Linked DNA regions of Homo sapiens: region 1 is linked to region 2. A link means that fine-mapping ties the variant in region 2 to the expression of a gene that starts in the linked region. Tissue or cell type: fibroblasts. Region 2 holds a variant in brackets; the other region holds the start of a gene. All regions are shown on one strand. Distances are from middle to middle.

Region 1 (10,694 bases), 99 kb after region 2:
TACAAAAACTACAAAAGTTAGCTGGGCATGGTGACACGCACCTGTAATCTCAGCTACTCGGGAGGCAGAGGTGGAATGATCGCTTGAGCCCAGGAGGTTGAGGCTGCAGTGAGTCATGATCACACCACTGCATTCCAGCCTGGGTGACAGAGAGAGACCCTTTCTCAAAAAAGCAAATAAAATAAAATTAAAAAGGGTCTTTTGCATGTACAAAAACAAACCCATAATCCCCAGCAGGGTTTCCTAATTCTTCATTAAATACATCACTACCACTGTGGCTGGAGTTTTAAGCATATGATCGAGTCACTCAGGCCAAAAAGGAATGTAAAACATTTCTCATGAGGTGATGTATTTTTATCCCTTTCTCCTTAGGGACATTTGTCACTAAACAGATACTTTATTGTTTGTTATCTTTTGTGTATTCTGGGGTGCTATCGAAAAAAATTACATTCCATTCAACAACTAAATGTATCACACAAAAACACTTTAATCTATGGGAAGATAGACTTTCTAAAAAGTATTACAGTGGCATATGCCTCTTGCTTTAGTGAAACAAAGAAATGTAGAGTTATTTATTACTTTGCAAAACCCTTTCAAATATAATTTGGTACTGACAATTCCTTTAGGAGGTAGGTGAAGAAGCATTTTATTATTATTATTTTACAGATGAAGAAACTGAGGCTTAGTGCGTTGAGGGAACTTGTTGAAGGTTGCACAATTAGGGAATGGAAGTGAGGTAGAAGATGTTCCAAATCAATACAGCAGTCTTTCCACCGCAGGTACATATTGGTAGTTAGTCCTACCTAGCTACTTTATTTTATTCTTTGTGTGACAGCCTAAACAATATTGTTGGGAGGAAAAGTAGGTATACCACAAAAAAATCAAATAGAGGTTCAAGGGATTCTTTTTGTTTGTTTGTTTATTTATTTATTTATTTTGAGAGAGTCTTGCTCTGTTGCCCAGGCTAAAGTGCAGTGGAACAACCATGTCTCACTGCAGCCTCAACTTCCCAGGGTCAAGCAATCCTTCCACCTAAGCCTCCTAAACAGCTGGACCACAGGCATGCATCACCACACCACCTATTTTTTTTCCTTTTTGTAGAAATGGGGCTTTGCTATGTTGCCAGGCTGGTCTCAAACTCCTGGGCTCAAGTTATCCTCCTACCTCGGCCTCCCAAATTGTTGGCATTATAGGCATGAGCCACTGTGCCTGGCCCAAGGGATTATTTTTAACATTGGGATTTTCCATCAAAAAGAAGTGTCATCCCAGGGCTACAGTGTCATTGAGGCTTAAAGAGGAAATGGTGAGGAGTGAGGTCGTTTGCTCTTACTGGAGCTCAGCATATTGGCTATCATGGGAGAGAGCTTAATGACTGAAGAATCTTAAAGGTATTTAATGATTCCTGCAAATGGTCTGGTGCCAGGGTCACTGATGTCAGCTATACTTACTTTTGTATTTAATTCGTTTGAAAACCATTTGTTGAGTGCTAGCATGGCCCAGGCACTCCGCTGTGTGCTGGTGCTACAAAAATAAATAAGTGTGTTTTATGGGAACAAGAAGTGAGTTAATTAATTAAATTAAGTTTGATTTATAAACAAGATGTTGCATGAGTCCAGAGTTTTTTTTTTTATTATTATAAGCAGGAGCCTGTGCTCCTTTATAGGTATCAACAGTGGACCTGTCAAAGGAAACATTTAGTAAACAGTAGTCACTCTGGGCTTACCTGAGGGCAGCTTTACTTATGAAAATAGAGGTCAGAGTGAGATGAAAGATGCCTTCTTTTCCTGAATAACCAACACAGTGCAGTTAATGCATTTCTCTATTATTGCACCAATCAAAAGATAATCCAAAATAATTGGCTGTCAGATATAGTCAGAATCCCTGCCCTATACTTCTCTTCCTTCATCTGACTGACCTACTCATTCTTTAAGGCCATGCACTAACATCATCCCTTTAGGTAAATTTCCTGGACCTCTCTTACCCATCCAGCCCCACCCTTCCCCCCTCCAAATTAAGGCAGGGTTGATGCATACACACCACACACACACACACACACACACACACACACACACACACAGAGTAGTACACTCTTATCCATGGGGGATACATTCCAAGACCCCCCCCATGGATGCGTGAAACTTCAGATAGTACCAAACTCCATATACATTATGTTTTTTCCTGTACATACATACCTATAATAAAGTTTAATTTATAAATCAAGCACAGTAAGAGATTAACAACAATAGTAGAATAATTTTAACAATGTACGATAATAAAAATGATGTGACTGTGGTCTCTCTCTGTGTCTCTAAAAGTATCGTATTGTACTCACTGATTTTCAGACCATTGTTGACCTTAGGTAACTGAAACTGTGGAAGGTAAAACCTCAGATAAGGGAGGACTACTGTATATAGTATTCTTACCACACTGTATATTTCTCTACTAGGCTGTGAGTTCCTTGGTGACAAAAACCAGTGACACTTACATGCACTGGACCTTCCATAGGATCTAGCATAGACCAAGTGACAGTGGCAGCATCTTCAAGAGGTGGCATGGAGTGAGGGAAAAGATAGCATTTAGCTTGTCTTCTCCTCCCTCATAATCTCTATTAACCACCCGCCTGCACCCCAAATGAACATACATCCTACATGAAACCAGGGTATTAGTCCGTTCTCACACTGCTAATAAAGACATAGTGAGATGGGTAATTTATACAGGAAAGAGGTTTAATTGACTCACAGTTCAGCATGGCTGGGGAGGCCTCAGGAAACTTACAATCAGAGCAGAAGGGGAAGCAAACACATTCTTCTTCACATGGCATCAGGAAGGGGAAGTGCTGAGCAAAAGGGAGAAAAGCCCCTTATAAAACCATCAGATCTCATGAGAAATCACTCACTGTGGGAACTACAATTCAAGACGAGATTTGGGTGGGGACACAGCCAAATGATATCAACCAGTATGCATGCTAGGCCAATGTGGGATTAAGCAAAGCCCCAGCACCTCCTTCCTAGCAGAGTGCTTAAAGGTCCCCTCCTGTATATTACTCAAATTCAATAAATGTCTGTTAAAACACTTTTGGGGGAGTGGCAATGGGACGAAAAAGAAAGAACTTGAATGACCATCATTTTTTAAAATGAGGTCCATTGAGGTATAATTTACATGCAGCAAAAGTTTCCCTTTTCCTATATAAAATTTGATGAGTTCTGACAAATGCATAGTTATGTAACCACCACCATCATCATGATAGAGAACACTTCCATCGTCTCAAAATAATTCCCTTTGAACTACCATAATTTTAAATGAACTCTTTAGAAGAACCACAAAAACTTATCAATGTTGTAGATTACATAACATATACTTGCATCTTGGACAACTTAACATATCTCTCCAAAATGAATAGTTGTTTTCCCTTGGTTATCATGCCATCATTTAGTTGTATTGCATTTTCTTTTTGGAAACCTCAAGGCATTTAGCAAACAGGATTTCATGTTTATTCCCAAAAACTCTGGCCCAACTGTAGAGATTTATAGTCCAATTCAATGAAACCCATGCATTTCTTTCCCAGTTTAACCTGATGTTTCTCTTCTTACCAGAGACTTCCATGTAAATACTTTAACAATGTTAGGTGTGTTATATATAATGAGGTCATAATCAGTTTCAAATTAGCATTGCGCCTTTCACTTATTTATCAATTATATTCCCTTGTGATGATTATGAAAAGGCTCCACATCCTGAGGACACTTGTCAGAGTTAGATTTATTAATGGAATGAAATAGCAAATAATGAATGACTAAATAAATGAATGAGTGAATGAATGAATGAGTGGCTGCCTCCATTTTATGGATGAGGCAGTGTCCGAAAGGCACAGTGAGGTCAGGTGATGGCAGAAAGCCACACACCGATGTTGGTGGCTTTCTGCCAGGTCAGATGCCAAGTTTATTTTCTTTGCTTTCTTGCTTTACTATCAACTAATCTTTAAAATCATTCCCATAAAATATCAACATTAAAGAATAAAAATGGAAAAATAAGCCACATACAATTAAATGGCTTTTTTAAAAGGAGCTCAGTGTGCAAAGGATAACATGAGTAAGGATTTTTTGGGAAATTTTTCACCTAATAGGAAGAATGCTTTACTCTTTTATTTATCAAACCTTCCTCATCATTAAATGGATTCAGTAGTACTTTTTGGTAATAACTCGTGTGTGTGTGTATGTGTGTAATAAAGTACTTTGTATATGTTCATTGTGTTCTTTTTTTAATAAGCTGTTTTAATGAAAAAGACACAATTACCGTCACCATTGCCCACTATATAATGACAAGTAGGGGAGGGGAGGCTAAAAGAGCTTCTACATAGTGAGAGATCTTCCATTGTTATACCTACGCTTGCACTTTATTTCATTTTCTTCCACGTTTGGACAGGTCGAGATTAAATGTGATTACATTTCCGTTGAGAGGCTTTTATTCAGCAACAGGATTCAAAAGAATGTCAATGAGCATAAAATAAAAACGGTGTGCAATTTATATGAAACTCTGATTTAAATGGTCCTAACCAAAAAAAAAAAAAAAGAAAGAAAGAAAAGAAGCTATTTAAAGTAACCCTCCCAAGGGGAGTCAACTGCTCTTCAGTGTGCCCTGAGCCGGCTGTGCCTTCTCTCCATCCGCTGCTCAGATATTCATGAACCGTTGCTTCTTCCAGCCTCGCCTTCTCGCTCCCTCTGCCTTTCTGGCGCTGTTCTCCCTCCCTCCCTCTGGCTTCTGCTCTTTCTTACTCCTTCTCTCAGCTGCTTAACTACAGCTCCCACTGGAACTTGCACAATCAAAAACAACTCTCCTCTCTCAAGCCGCCTCCAGGAGCGCATCACCTGGAGAAGAGCGACTCGCTCCCCGCGCCGGCCGCGGAAGAGCAGCCAGGTAGCTGGGGGCGGGGAGGCGTACCCTTCTCCCGCTCGGTAAGAGCCACAGCATCTCCCCGGAGATTGGCCGTATCCCACCGTCCGGCCCCCAGGGTCCTGCAGCGGTGATGCATATGTTTCGGAGCAATGATGGAAGGAGAAAAGCCGCTGTCGGTGGCAACTGAAAGTGGGGAGAGGTTGCTGCAGTAGCTGGTGCTGCAGAATGCGCGAGTGAAGAACTGAGCCCCGCTAGATTCTCCATCCCGCTCAGTCTTCATTAACTGTCTGCAGGAGGTAAACCGGGGAAACAGATATGCACTAACCAGGCGGGTGCCAACCTGGATCTATAACTGTGAATTCCCCACGGTGGAAAATGGTAAACAAAGACATGAATGGATTCCCAGTCAAGAAATGCTCAGCCTTCCAATTTTTTAAGAAGCGGGTAAGGACAGGTTTTGCTTATTTCTTTTGTTTTCTGTGCTTCTCTTAAATGCTTTTGAATGTTTGCCTGAAGTAAGCCTGAGGTTTTGTTGCTAAACCCTTAATGTAAGCCGTGCTTCTGATGGCAGTGGTAAAGCTGAGAACTATACCTGACTTGATTAGAATTTGTTGGAGGAGGGGCAGGGGGCTATGAAGAGTTGCATTGGGAGGAGGGGGTTGGGCTGAGATGCCTTAAACGGGTTTGAGCTGGGAATGGGGATTTTTCTCTCTCAAGCCACAACAAAGATTACAAGGCAGTCGCAAAGAGAACTGGCTTGAGTACAATTATGGCTAGTAATTTAGTCAGGGGCTAATTTAGCAGCTTCCTCTCATCTTTGAAGGGTTCAACTTTTCTACACCTTTCATCCACTCAGTCTCAAGTGATGCATTATCATCTTCGTTCGTCAGAAGCAGCAGCTTCTGGTTTCCCAAATCCATTCAGCCAATAATTTGCTGTGTCTCTATCTGTGGTATAAATAGCAAAGGAGTAGAATGACCTTTTACAGAAATGATGGAATCCAGCATTTAAAATTGTCTATTTTAAGTTGCCTCAATTTTTGCTTTTGCTTAGAATAACTGCCTTTTTTTTTTTTTTTTTTTTTTTTTTTTTGGGAGAGAGCAGTGGGAGGTCTGTATTTGAGTGATAATTCAGGGTTATGTTGCTGTATGCATTTATTTCTTAAACTCCTTATTCTTCAACTCAAAGTATGAATAATGTTGCATTGGTTGTAGGTGAGAAAAAAGGATTTTTTTGCATGTATATTTCACAATAAACTCAGTTCACTGGGATGGCCACACTGGTGGTCTGTGTAAATCTGCAAATTTATACACAAGCGGGAGGTAAGAAATGAATGATTGTTAAAGGAATGACACTGACACTCTTAAGGACAGTGTTTCCTAAGCAACGTAAGAGAAGGAACATCCTCCAGTCCCCAGTTGCCCCATCCTATTTAATACCCTAGGGCAATTCCACCAAAATGGTTCTCTCCATTCATTCCTCCTTCCTTTCATTCAGGTCCTTTCTGTGCCACTCCTGAAACACAGCCCTTCAGTTAACTCATCCGCAGAACACAGTGAATTTCAGGGTGGGCTGGACTATCTCCCTGCACCAAATGGGCAAGCTGGGAAGGCAAGGCTAGAAATGCAGGCAACATGTCAGGCCCAGCTAGAGGGCCAGCGAAGGCTCCCAAGCACCCTTGACTGAGTTCTCATCAGTAAAGCAAAATCTTTCTCCAAGTCTGTGGGCCAAAGCATATGCATTCAAACCAAAATGAAACCAACCTGTCCTGGCCCCTGCTCTTGGAGTGGGAGTACCATGTGAAATCTCACTAGTGAGCTGCAAGCTAAGTGAAAGCAAGTCAGTGCAACTTCACAGAGCTCCACAAGGCTTCTTAGTTTTTCTCTGTAGCTAAAATATTTCTTTCCAAGGGAAGAGCCCTTTATGAAAATTAATTTTCTTTCTTTCTTTTTCTTTTTTTTAGAGACGGGGTCTTGCTATATTGCCCAGGGTGGTCTTGACCTTTTGGGCTCAAGTGGTCCTCCTGCCTCAGCCTCCCAAATTGCTGGGATTACAGATGTCCACCACCAGGCCCAGCCCTAATTTTCAATAATAAACAAATGTTTTGCTAATTTTAAAAATGCCATAGCCCATTATCCAGTATTTAAACTCTATTGCCTTTTAATTACTGTATTTATTTCATGGTATTGGGGATATTCTAAAACTCCTCAGTCAGATGTTCTTAAGCAATGTAGATTTAAGTTACATAAATTTTAAATTGTCTTTTATTTTCTTTGTTATCAAAATGTACTAATAGAAATACTAATTTGCCATTTGGTTTTGTTTTGCTTAAAAGCAAGTTTACCAATAGACTTCAGTTGGTGACTCTGCAGACCTTGAATTTTGCAGAGAACCACCCAGGGTACTGATGTCTTATCTGAGTACATGCAGAAAGAAGTTTCTACCAAGATAACTGGCAGGCAGCTTCATCTAACTTCTAACCTGGGTCTATCAGTTGCTGGAGACAGGATCAGACATCTCTCCTGCCCCTGCGCTCTCCTTACTCCTCAAGGACAGTTAACTAAGTAGAAGGTGACCTTGTATCAAGTCATTGAATGCCCCAGGGATAAATTCTTTGATTTTTGTCTACTTTGGTTTATTCCACAAATTCTGTATTCTAAATGTTTATTTCTGCTTGTACATGACTTTGCTTTTTTTGTTTGTTTGTTTTTAGTTAAACAATATGTAAATACATCTATAAAACATTAAAACAATAATAAGGTATATCCCACCTCCTCTCCAATCTTTCTCCCTTTCCCAGATGTAGTAACTGTTACCATACTGATGTTTATACTTTCCAAACTTTTACTTCACATACACATTCATATACTACAATGCCTTTGTTTGCAGTTCAGAATAATTCATTTTCTTATATTCTATTGTTGAAGTTCCACACATTTCTGCATATTTTATTTTTAACCTAGCTAGACAGTCTTACAAAGTGAACCTTTGTCCATAGCCCACATTAAACTATGAATAGATTTTGGAAAAAAAAAAAAAAAAACCATAGGGTCTATTAGGGCTAATTAAAAAGAATGATTTTTGATTGCAGGAGGCTTAAACAGTGCTTCCTATGCTTCTGAGACATTCCAGAGGGAGCATAAGAAACTGAAGGAGAATATAGGTTATCTGCCCTTGTAGCTGTCTGTCAGTCACTATTTATTAGAGCTGACTATGTTCTGGGTAGGAATGCTTTACATGTATTAGCTCATTTAATATTCACAGTAACCCTATAAGGTAAGAAACATTATTAAATGTGCAAAGTGTGACTTAGAGAGATTAAACCATTCGCCCAAGGTCACATAACTAAAAAGTAGCAGAGCTAAAATTTAAACCTTGTTCAACTCAAAGCTTGTATACGTAATCCAGACTTTTTGATTTCAGACCACTCTCCCCTTCTTTTCTTTTAGTTTCCACAACAGACTCTTCTGTCCCCCTACCCCCCTCCCCCAACCAAGTGAAATCTTTATGCCACTACCAAAAACCTATAAAAGCGGCCAAGCCTCTTCCAGCTCCTTTCTAGTCCTTAATACTGACAGTAATGAGAGGCTGCCCTGGGGAACCCAGATTCTAGGAACATAATCTGAAGAAAGACAGTCCGGATGCTAGTTCTACAAAATCCTTTGGATTTATGCTTCTCATCCTCATATTTTAAAAGCTCAACTAAAGCAGCTTAATTTCATTTAGCAGAGAATTGCTGAACTAAACTGGATAAGAGTTCTACTTTCATTCTTTAAGTGTTCATGATAAATTAGCATTAGATGTATATGGATTATATTTTACTCTTAAGAGTCTCCAAAAATTCATTTAAGATGAATGGAAAAATGTCCTTATCAGTTTTATTCTCCCAATCCAAGAGTTTTAAAAGTTGTCAGTCCAGCTAAAGGTAATCCATTTTCATGGATTTAAAGATTTGTTCTGTTTGTGGCTCAGATTCTTACATAATGATTTAGAAAACGCAAACAAATGACATTGTCTCCAACTCGATAATCCTTTTTGGAAATACACAAGGTATGTGAAAAAAACTTCCATAGCCATGATTACATTACCTTTTGTAAAATTCGAAAGGCTATCTAACGCTGCAGAATTTTGGATGTGGAATGAACCTCAGAAATTCTCCCTCTGACTTCCCTCTTTCAAAGATGAGGAAACTGAGTACCTGTGGTAAATCACCTGTCAAATTAGAATGAGGTTAAGCCAGGACTCATGTTTTGGGTTTTCACTTCCAGATCTCGTGTGCTTTCCTTTTTGCTAAGTTCTCAACATCAAACTAGTCAAGTCTTTCATGCCTCATTCATTCATTTTTCAACAAATAGAGTAGGAACAAAATAACCATGTTTTATCTTCATGAAACTAACGGCATAGTGACTACCAACTTTGACAAGACCGTTCCATTTTGACTCTGTATTTTTGTTGTTGTTATTTTTGTTTGTTTGTTTGGTTGGTTGGTTGTTTGCAGAGACAAGGTCTCACTATGTTGCCCTGGCTGGTCTCGAGTTTCTGGGCTCAAGGGAGCGTCCCAAAGTGTTGACATTTCAGGTGTGAGCCACCCACTGTGCCCAGCCTTGACTCTCTATTTTATGATTATATGCATTTGAACAATTCCTTGCATTATTCTTTAATAACAGTAGCTTTTCTAATAACTATGACTTAAATGGCATTAATATTGCTGGGCATGGTTCTAAGAGCTTTAAGTACATTACACATTTAAATCATCATACACAGGCTGGGCGCGTTGGCTCACGCCTGTAATGCCAGAACTTTGGGAGGGTTAGGCAGGCAGATCACTTAAAGTCAGGAGTTCGAGACCAACCTGGCCAACGTGGTGAAACCCTGTCTCTACTAAAAATACAAAAATGAACCAGGTGTGATGGCAGGCGCCCATAATCCCAGCTACTCAGGAGGCTGAAGCAGGAGAATCGCTTGAACCAGGGAGGCGGAGGTTGTAGTGAGCTGAGGTCTCGCCACTGCACTCCAGCTGGGATGACAGAGTGAGACTCCATCTCAAGGAAAAAAAAAAATTATCATATATAAAAATACCTGAGATAGGTACTTTTATTATTGTGATTTCATAGATGAAGAAACTGAGGTGTACAGAAGTTGAAGAACTTGCCCCAAGTCACATAGCTAGTTAGTGACAGGATCAGGGTTTGGATCCCAGCACCAGGCTCCAGAGTCTGTGTCCTTAATCTCTATACATCCCGAATGCCTGTCAACATTAAATAATCCAGGGTGAAGTTCAGAGAAGTGAAATGATATGACTTCTCTGGCCTCCTCCTTTCTCTAATAACTGCAGGAACAAAGGAAAGGTTTTTAGTCTGGTTACAATGTTTACTCTAGCAGAGCTGAGAAGTTAAATTAAGCTCCTCTGAAGTGCTTATTCTTCACAACTATTTCATAAACAGCATCCCTTTACATTTGTTTTCCTTTTACTGTTCTATTTTGCCTGCTTAAAGTATCCAAATTGGAATAACAAAGGCCCTTTTCTTATGGGAAACTTTCGATGTCTTCTCAGAGGGATAACATTATTGAGCAGCACCGTTCAAAGCACTTTACTCAGGTAACTCTCACAATCCTTCATTATGCCCATTTTATAGCCAAGGAAACTGAGGGTCAGAGGTTAACTGATTTGTTAAAAATCGTAGACCTAGGAAGAGGTATAGCCAGAATTCAAATTCAGGTAGTTCGTTTACCAGCAGCAGTCTTTCCATTTGCGTCACTGGAGTGCACTGCGATGATGCCAATACTGTTGCAGGATTGGCTCT
Region 2 (10,694 bases):
TCCAGCCTGGGGGACTGAGCAAGACTCTGTCTCAAAAATAAATAAATAAATAAATAAATAAATACATAAATAAATAAATAAAATAAATCACTGTGATATTGGACAAACATTATCATAAAAATTTATTTTTTAATAAAGAACAAAACCACATTATCATATAAGTCTGGCAAATCTGCTTTGATTTTTTCTAGATTGAGTTATTGGATCTCTGTTAAACTGTTATTAGATAGAACAAATATATGCATTATACTATTATCTTCTTTTCCCCTGGGCCCTTCTATTTAATTAGGACAAGGTAACTTGAAAACATGTAAAGTACTGTCATCAAAAACATATATCTACTGAATGCCTCCCCTTACCCTCATTGGCCAAGTGTCATATTAGGTATACTGAAGATACAAAGATCCTTGCCTTCTGGGACTTTACATTTTAGTGTCAGAGACAGAAGAGATGTATGAGAAAATAAACACAGAAGAAAGAGCAGATGCTATGAATCCCCATGACACATCTGTTTTCAAATGAGAAACAGCATAAACAATGTGAAGGCTGAATTCCACACATCATTCTCGGGTCCAATTTATTTGCCAACTCTAGGAAAGATAAACTCAGATATTATTGTGATATTCACACAACTATCACCATGAAGAACAGATTTTCTGATTCAAGGAGAAGGAAAAAAACAGCTTTCTCTTCTTGAGAACTGAATTATTCTTCCCTCTTAACACTTCTGTGAATTTTTCCTGCTAAATATAACAGCCAAAACAAGGGGCCTGAAGCCCAATTTGGTTGCATTGCAAGACAAATAACATCCATACTAATAACAGCAGCTATAATGTATTGAACCCCTATTGTAATAGGCTCCATGTTAAGCATATTTACATATATCTTCTCATTCAAACATCATAACAATCCTGGAAGAAACGTGCTATGATGCCCTTTGAGTAAAAGACCAGAAGGATTAAGTAAAATGACCAAGTATTATGCATAAACCATGGCTGGGCAGGATTTGCACCCAGGTCCATCCATCTAAAAACCCGTTTCTTTTCATTACCTCAGAAGAGAAGTGGTTATTCCATTTCCCTAGGATGAGTAATTCCTCTGTGAAGGAAATACCAACATTCTTTCAATGCTTATCTACAGAGGAGGGTGGAGGAGGAACGGATAAGGTGGAAAAAGTCAGTGAGGATTAGGAATGACATCCCAAGGCTGAATCACTTATCCATTTATTTAATCAAACAAGTTTATATTGAAGGCCAAATAGGTGCTGGATACAGGAGACTGGACTGTAAAATAGAGATGCATCATGCCACTCAGGGAGCTACAGTCTCATGGAGAAGACAGACCAAGAAGACAAGCACGTCAAATAAGGAAACAAACAGGGCACCCAAATAGGGAATCATGGGAGGTGGTGGTGGCCCGCTTTGAATACCACTGTTGCTGTTTACTTTCCAGCTTTCTCTAAGGAAGTGACATATAAGCTGAGCCTGAAAGATGAAGAGGAGCAGATTGTATGCAGAGCAGAGGGAAGAGCAAGCTGATGGAGGTGACTAATCAGAGGGCCTGATGGTCAAGTGCTCAAGGTGGAGTTAAAGGAAACCCTGCTTTCTTGACATCACCAGCTGCTCAGAAGCCTTCAGCAGGCATCCTAGACCTTCTCCTTCTCTAAGGGATGGGCCTCACCTACTTTCTTCAGCTGAGACCTGGCACAGACCCTTGGAGCTTCTAAGGACCCCATTGTAGCCTTGGGGTGGAGGCCCATGGCACCACTGCCCTCTCCCTGGGATAAAGGTCCTGGGGCCACTTCTCAGGGCTGTGTCCCTCTATCAGGAGGTAATTGTCTCTCCCAAATCACCTTCTTCTTCTTCCTTTTTCTTCACCCCATTAAAAAAAGGGTACAGAATACCTTTCTTTTTTCTTTTTTTTTCTTTTTTTTTTGAGACAGTCTGTCACTCCATCACCCAGGCTGGAGTGTGGTGGCGTGATCTCTGCTCACTGCAACCTCTGCCTCCCAGGTTCAAGCAATTCTCATGCCTCAGCCTTCCAAGCAGTTGGAATTACAAGTGCGCATCACCACACCCGGCTAATTTTTGTATTTTTAGTAGAGATGGGGTTTCGCCATGTTGACCGAGGTCTCGAACTCCTGACCTAAAGTGATCAGCCTGCCTTGGCCTCCCAAAGTGCTGGGAATACAGGAGTTAGTCACTGTGCCTGGCCCCTTTCCTTTTGTTCTGTAAGAGCTCAGCCAACATCTAACATGTATGCATTCGGTCATTCATAGACAAGAATTTCAGCTTGGAACCAAAATGCTTGGATTTATATGTCAGCTATTTGCCTCTACAGCTCAGTCTACTTACTGGCTCTGCGACCTCGGGCAAGTTGCTTAATTGCTGTATGCTTCAGCTTAATCATTTGTAAAACAAGTTTCCACTCTTTAGGTTTTCCAAAGAAATCAGATGTGTAAATCTATAGAAGACGTTTAAAGAACTGTTCCTGGCAACTTAAAAATGTTTGTTATTGTTACCCTTTTTTCCTTATTATTATTATATGGCCAGTGACCTAGTCTAGGCAGTGGTTATATCAAGACAAATCAAACAGTTTCTAGCTAAAGTCCCCGGACTGGCAGGGCAGGGGTGGGGGTTCAACCCAGTTATCCCTAATCAGTGTGACCCATGCTATAGTGAAGGTGTGCGAAGTCATGGAAACACAGAAGAGGGGGCAGTTTCTTGTGTTGAAAGGATGAGTTGAAGTTTTTCCAGGTGAAGTATGGGGAAAGGGAAAACAGGAGGCAGAGAAGGCCTTCTAGGCAGCAAGAATGCACTGTGCAAAGGCTGAGGCATGTGAAGAAACAAGATGTGGGGTGACTGAAGGAGCCATGTGGGCTTGGTGAAGAAAAAAAAGGTGGTGTCCAGATTCCTATGCCAGGGAATCTGAGTCCCAAAAGTGAAGGAGAGACATAAATGTCTGAGCAGGTTAGAAACAGAATGAGGGCTGGGGCGTGGTGGCTTACGCCTGTAATCCAAGCACTTTGGGAAGCTGAGATGGGCAGATCACCTGAAGTCAGGAGTTCAAGACCAGCCTGGCCAACATGGTGAAACCCCCATCTCTCTACTAAAAATACAAAAATTAGCTGAGTGTGGTGATGCACACCTGGGATCCCAGCTACTCAGGAGGCTGAGACAGGAGAATTGCTTGAATCTGGGAGGTGGAGGTTGCAGTTAGCTGAGACTGCACCACTGCACCCCAGCCTGGGCAACAGAGCAAGACTCTGTCTCAGAAAAAAAAAAAAGAAAAGAAAAGAAAAGGAAAGGAAAAAAGGAAAGGAGAGGAAAAAAGGAAATAAAAGAAACGAAAAGAAACAGAATGTACCTCTGAGTTCTGTCCACAGGAGGCTGGGAGAGGAACAACTCACTACAGCTACATCAATTCAGCTACATTGTATCCCTAGTGTTATGTGTATATATAATGCTATGTATATGTATATATAATGCTATGGCCTAGCCTTGCCTGAGGATGTCCTCACCAATTTTAACATTGTTTCTATTTGAAATATATATTTTTTTAATTTCCAAACAGCCTACCGGCAACCAAACTCTTGGAAAACAGCTTGTTCTTAAAATGAGGTTCTCCAGCAGTGTAATGTGGTCATGAACCTCTAGATTTTAGTTAAAAAACAGGCCAGATGCGGTGGCTCATGCTTGTAATCCCAGCACTTTGGGAGGCCGAGGCGGGAGAATCATTTGAGCCCAGGAATTCGAGACCAGCCTAGGCAACATAGTGCGACCTCATCTCTAAAAAAAATTTTACAATTACCTAGGTATGGTGGCACATGCCTGTGGTCCCAGCTACTGAGGAGGCTGAGGTTGCAGGATTGCTTGAGTCTAGGAGGTCGAGGTTGCAGTGGGCTGTGATCATACCACTGCACTCCAGCCTGGGTGACAGAGGGAGACCTTGTGTCCAAAAACAAACAAAAAACCCCAAAACCATAACCTCTGAAGGATTGAGGGGAAAAAATCAAAGCAACATTGTCTTATTCTGATGTGATCAGTAGGTTAATCAGAAACCTTGTCCTAAAATCTGTGTTATTTTAGATTCCTTTCCATCTTTCATCCTCAAATTGTGAAATTAGCATGATACAGTTATTCATTCTGAGAGCTGTCCGCGGAACATGTATTGATTGAGCCTGTGTGCCACGCATTCTGCTAAGCCCTTTATGCATATTATTTAGTCTTTACAACCCTCTAAAGTTGGTATTCTTTTTTTTTTTTTTTTTTGATACAGGGTCTCACTTTGTCACCCCACCTGGAGTGTAGTGGCGCAATCTCAGTTCACTGCAGCCTCCGCCTCCCAAGTCAAGCGACTCTCCTGCCTCAGCCTCCTGAGTAGCTGGGATTACAGGCATGCACCACCACACCTGGCTAATTTTTGTATTTTTAGTAGACGCAGGGTTTCGCTATGTTGTCTAGGCTGTTCGCAAACTCCTGACTTCAAGTGATCCACCTACCTCACCCTCCCAAAATGCTGGGATTACTGGCGCCTTGCCTAAAGTTGGTATTCTAATTTTCAAATAAGGAAATTGGAGCTCAGAAGGTTATCCGATTTTACCAGGGACACACAGTTGACAAGCAGCAGAATCAGAGATGGAACTCAGATCTGTGCATGTCCAAAGTTAGTGCACTCAACCACTTCCCTGTATGCTTCTATGGATCAATCAACATTGAAACAATTTTTTCTTGGTCTCCAGCCTTTAAAAACAAGTCTCTTTAAGCTGAGTAACTGACTTAAAGTAATAGGTGCATGGAATCGGTGCTATTTGTCCAAACTGCTCCCATCTCTTCCACACTGATCTTGTTCAAGTTCTCAAACATGACAATATTTTCTGGATGCTTTTCAAATATATCATTTTACATGTTCGAAATCTCTTAATACCACTCAGGAGTGAGTAAATATTAGCAGCCATTAGTTATGGAGTAGTAAACTGAGCTAGAAATAAGATGAATGACAAGTTCTAGAACGTAACAGCGGTGGGAGGTGTCTCAGCAAAGCAGCAATGGAGCCAATAAAGGTTTATGGACTCATAAGTCCACAGTAAGAAATGTCCTACATGCAGTGTAGGACTCAGGAAGTTGAGACCTCAGAGTGCTTGCTTGGTTTTGAACTCCATATCACGGAACCATAAATACATACATAGTCATATGCATGAGTCCTCAGGTTCTAGTAACTGATTCACAAACTCTTCCTGGAAGTCCTTTGGTAATAAATATCAGAATTA[C/T]GAGCAATGTGTTTTCTAAGTCAGAACAACACACTGTATCCAATTAGTCTCAGCGAAGTCCCAGTAAAGGAATTTCATCCAATCTGACTCAGAACAACACGGTGGTGACATCAGGTCCAATACAGACCCTGCAGAGAAAATGAATGGGTGGGGATAGACTGAGCACATGTGCACTTTTCTGGGTCCCTCCTCTGCGGCGCAGGCCACAGGCAGTCCTTTCTAGTAAAGCCTGTGTGAAACCCTGGTGGTGAAGGAGTCTTATCTTGACAGCTTCCGCTGTATCACAACATTCACAACAGTATGTCAGTAAAAGGCAAAAAGAAACAACCCAATTATATTGAACCACAGATGTGTAGATGTGTACACAGATGTTCCCCCCCATCCCCACTCCAAAAAAGGAAGTTCCCCGGATGTCTTGCTCCGTAGCAATTGTCACATGCATTTTAAAGAAATTCAGCATCTTTGTGTCACATTCTCAAGATAGTTTCAAATTAACGTTTGACTACTTGAGAGGCTGAAGTGGGAGGATTGATTGAGGCTAGGAGTTCAAAGCCAGCCTGGGCAACATAGTGAGACCCCCATTTCCAAAAAAAAAATAAAAGAGTAAAAAAACAGTTATCTTCGGCATTGGAGTCAATGGGGTGTATGGCTAAATATCAGAAACACCACACTTCCTTAGCTAACTTTACTTAGAGATATTTGTTCTGATTCAAGCTTTGTTCTTTTATTCCCTTTTATTTATGAATTTATGAAGAGCACAGATACCATTTACATATTTGTTTTTAATGTATTTTCAAAATTCTGACTGAAAAGTAAAAACCCCTTGCCTCCAATTTGCTTCAGTTTGTTGGGCAAAAATAGGTCTCCTTTTCATCACTGCTTACACAAACCATTTTATTAATAATTTATCACAATGTTCCACAGCAGAGATAAAGCAGACACCCACATGATCATTATGTGTTCATAATGTGGGCTCTGCAGTGTCTTAAATTTCCCTGCACCTGCTGTTACCTGCTCGCTCCCTTCTCTCTAAGGTTTGCATTTGCTGTGATGCTGATAAGCTTTAGCGCCACACTTTTCACTGCCTGGATAGGTAACTGTTGACTAGGAAAAGCAGACACAGGTTGCATCATGTGTTGCCACGATCTTATTTTCACCCTCCTTGAACTAACTGCAGTCAAGAGAATTTGCCCTACAGATGGGTGAGAGTTTTCACAGTGCCCTGGGATCCTCCAATTCTTGGGTCCTTAGTCTTCCTCGCCAGCCTCCCCACTCCCCTCACACACAGTTCTTTCTTTGCTCTGCTTCTGAAGACATTTGAACCTGTTCTAAATCCCTCCCCTTCCTTCCATAAAGAGAGCTTCCTTAGATCATTTTTCTCAGCCTTTCTCTGCTTGCTGAATTTAAACCTTGGCACAAAGGTCACAGGCAGACAGAAGGCACTTTGCTGAATAACTTGTGTTTGAACTTCTAGAACAGTTACTTTGGGTTTTTTTAAGGTACTCATGTCATGTTTGGCAGTGAAACGTTCAGTGTTGCAAAAAATAAAAATGTCAACTTGCAAAATCTTTCTCCTTCAACTCTACATCCGTAGAGAAAAATAAAAGATGTATAATGCCTTTCACCCAAGAATGCTGAAATCATTAATAAGCATCAAGTAAATTATTCTGAGATGTAATTGATGACAAAGATCGAAATCTTCGAACCAAAGGTTTCACAAGTACTATTATTTACAATGAAAAATGTGAGACCTGCATACCAGCCCTGTACACGATAGCATTTGGTAAATAACGACTGACTGTTGATGATATTCACAGAAAGTCAGTGACTGACTAGCAAAGAAGGGAGTGACATGTACCAATGTACCAGAAGAAGGAAGCAAGGCTTAATCTACGTCAGGCCTTTTTGCTATTTCTCGTAGACCCCAGGGAATACATATGTCCTTCCTCTGGTCTGTGCAGTGATGCTGCACAATTAGAGGAAACGCTGAGCATCGGAAGCCAGGCTTTCTCCCAACAAACCCAGAACCCCCAACAACACACCGCCTAGTCCCAGCTTCTCAGAAGCACATGCTATGAAGCTCTCTATGCTGCTGAACATTCCCAGGATGACAGAAACACAGAACCTGGGGAGGGTCCCTGGTTCTCTGGGGAGGTGTCTCTTCTCTTCAGTCCCCTTCTTCTAATGGGGTTAGGATAAATGAAGGGGACTGGTGAATTGCTCTACAGCCTATTTGCCATGTTAACAAAGTAGGCTACCTAGCCCCTCAGAGCTTGTAAGCTGAGAATAGTGTTTTCCTGATTTGGCTGATATAAAGGTCTGCATAACAGTAACAAGTTGTGTGGATCCCTCCAGATTCACACTTTACCCTTCTTTCCCCATTCCCTTCCCTTCCCTTCCCTTCCCTTCCTCTTTCTTTCTTTCTTTCCTTCCTTCCTTCCTTACTTCTTTTTAGTCTTTCTTTTTTAATTGAGATAAGGTTTCACTATGTTGCCCAGGCTGGTCTCACACTCCTGAGCTCAAGTGATCCTCCCACCTTGACCTCCCAAAGTGCTGAGATTGCAGGTGTGAGCCACCATGTCTGCTCCCCCCACCCCCCCCTTTTTTTTTTAGAAACAAGGTCTCACTCTGTCTCCCATTCAGAGCAAGTACAATGGCACAATGCTAGCTCACTGAGCCTCAAATTCCTGGGCTCAATCAATTATCCTGCCTCAGCCTTCCAAGTAGCTGAGACTACAAATGTGTACCACCACACTAGTTAATTTTCAAATTATTTTTTGGAGAGGTGGAGTCTCACTGTGTTGCCTAGGCTGGTCTCACACTCCTGGCTTCAAGTGATCCTCCCACTTTGGCTTCCCAAAGTACTGGGATTACAGGTGTGAGCCACCTCACTTGGTTGTTTTACCCTTTTTGATAAGTGCTATGTCTTGGGAGGTTGACCCATATGAATGGCTTCAACAAGTTCTCTTGCCACCTGACTTTCTATGGGATATGCCCATGGAGGCACCAGAGGATGATCAGAGTTGAGAGAAGAGGGAGATTCAGAAATTTACTCTCCAAGCTCCTTCCTTGCCAGGTTAAATGTATCTCCCAAAAGTTCATGTGTTGGAAATTTAATTATCAATGTAACAATATTAAAAGGTGGAACTTTTAATAGTTGATTGGGTCATGAGGGCAGAGCCCTTATGAATGGATTAATGCTGTTAATGCAGGAATTAGCTAGTTCTACTGAGACCAGATTATTACAAAAACAAGCTTGACTCAGTCTTGTGATCTCTTTTGCACATGCTCACTTGCCCTTTTGCTTTTGTGGCATGTTACAATGTGGTACTAAAGCCCTTGCCAGAAGCTGCTGCCATGCCCTTGGATTTCCCAGCCTCCAGAACCATGAGCCAAATAAATGTCTTTTCTTTATGAACTACTCAGTCTCAAGTATTCTGTTATAGCAACAGAAAACAAAGACAGAAAACAGGTACCAAGAAGTGAAGTTGTTGCTAGAATAAATATCTGAAAATGTGGAAGTGGCTATGGGATTGGGTAATGGGTAGATGCTGAAAGAATCTGGAGAAACAGGCAGTGGGTCAGCTGCTTCATGCACAGAAGCCTACAAAAGAAGCCTTCTTCTTCTTCTTTTTTTTTTTTTTTTGAGACCGAGTTTTGCTCTTGTTGCCCAGGCTGGATGCAATGGCACAATCTTGGCTTACCACAACCTCTGCCTTCTGGGTTCAACCAATTCTCCTGCCTCAGCCTCCCAAGTAGCTGGGATTACAGGCATGTGCCACCATGCTTGGCTAATTTTGTATTTTTAGTAGAGACTGGGTTTCTCCACATTGATCAGGCTTGTCTTGAACTCCTGACCTCAGGTGATCCACCCGCCTTGGCCTCCCAAAGTGTTGGGATTACAGACGTGAGCCACTGTGCCCAGCCCACAGGCAGCCTTCTTCTAAACAGCTACCCTCACTCCTGTCAGCACTAGGGTCCCACTCCTCCTCGCCCTGGGGTGCTATGCCATCCTTTGTGGTTTCCTTAAACCCTACCCACACTTTGTAAACCGTTTCTTTGTTGAATTCTCATCAAATTACCAAGAGGAAATATGGAATATCTTTTCTACCAGGACTTTGAATGATGCATATGTGAAACAGCTGGCTATATACTAGAGGCTCAGGAAATGGCAATGATGTTACTGACTCTGTAATTTAGGTTAGCTTCATAATGTATTTTAAGCAGCCCTGTTTCTTCTTTGCAAAAGGAAATATCCTGCAAAAAATATAGTTCTGCATCTGTATCTACAAAGTAGTTTGAAAGTGGAATTCATGAATGAATTCAGTCAAATAGCCACTATACTGAAGAGGGTAGATTGTTCATATATAGCCAACTTTCATCAGGCTAGATATGACCTCAAAAACTGAAATCAGATTTGGAAAAATCAGAGGCCTTGGGACCATGAATCAGTCTTGCTTCCTAGAGGATGGGTACAGGCTTACCTCCTGGAAAAAAGAACATTTATTCTAACAATCTGTTAGCAGGCCTGCAGTGGTTCTCAAAGTGCAGGTCCCAGCATCATCTGGGAACACATTAGAAACGGAAACTCTCTAGCCCCATCCCCAAGCCTGCAGAATCAGAAGCTCATGGGTTGCAGCCCAGTAATATGTGTTTTAACAGACCCTCCAGAGGACTCTGATGCACACTAAAATTTCAGAACTACTTCACCTGAGGGGTTTCTGGAAGTAGACAAAAGCCAACTTTCAGGAGTCTAGGTAAGCATTTGGCATCAGATGACCTAACAAGCAGTAAAGAATTCAAGAGCTGGTCAATTCGTAAACAAAGAACTTTGTTTGCTTTGGGGAAACTCTGTCATTAGGGAATAGGAACAGGACCTCTGTGTATGGTTCAGAGAAGGACTCTAGTACCTGCAGGGTGAGTGGAGAGCAGGTACAATCAAAGCAACACCCCAATATTACAGGGACTGAAGGCTAAGTGGATTCGGAAGCAAGGCATTATGCACTGGAAATAAATGAAGAACCCTTATGGGGACTGGGGCCCTCATCAGTCTGGGTGTCTGGAATAGCTACAAGCCCAGTTAACAGAATCAGAACTCAGGATTAGTGCTGAAGAAGCATTTTGAGTAGTTCAATGCTTGGGATGTGAGTGTTTGACCACAGCTTTTAAAGTCCCTGGTGCCTCAAATTAGGACTAGTCCTAAGGGCCACAATGTAGCTGTTTCTTTTGGTGACAACCACACATTTTGGCTGTGGGAAGGTGGTGGGTACAAAGCCTCTAGATTTTCAGGCAGGGCGTGACCACCACCTCTTCACACTGGATACTTGCTGGCCAGCTGGTTTCCTGATTCAGCTCATTATTTTTCAAATTACCTGATGTGTGTAGACCTCTGGTTTTCAGTCTTCAGTATATAGCAATGTTATGA

Evidence for each region. PIP is the estimated chance that this variant, and not a neighbour inherited with it, causes the effect.
Region 1: it holds the start of SGK1, and the variant in region 2 is fine-mapped to the expression of SGK1 in fibroblasts (GTEx, PIP 0.96).

What each region holds. Positions count from the first base shown.
Region 1 is chr6:134,312,032-134,322,725 of GRCh38, reverse strand. It overlaps SGK1 (serum/glucocorticoid regulated kinase 1), which reads left to right and starts at 4,614. Exons shown (of 14, transcript NM_001143676.3): 1 at 4,614-5,334. The coding sequence starts at 5,266. RefSeq lists an enhancer at 4,787-5,066.
Region 2 is chr6:134,411,526-134,422,219 of GRCh38, reverse strand. No RefSeq gene overlaps it. Among named protein-coding and RNA genes, the nearest start is that of LINC01010, 21 kb to the left of the region's middle. The variant C/T (reference allele first, on the strand shown) is at 5,270.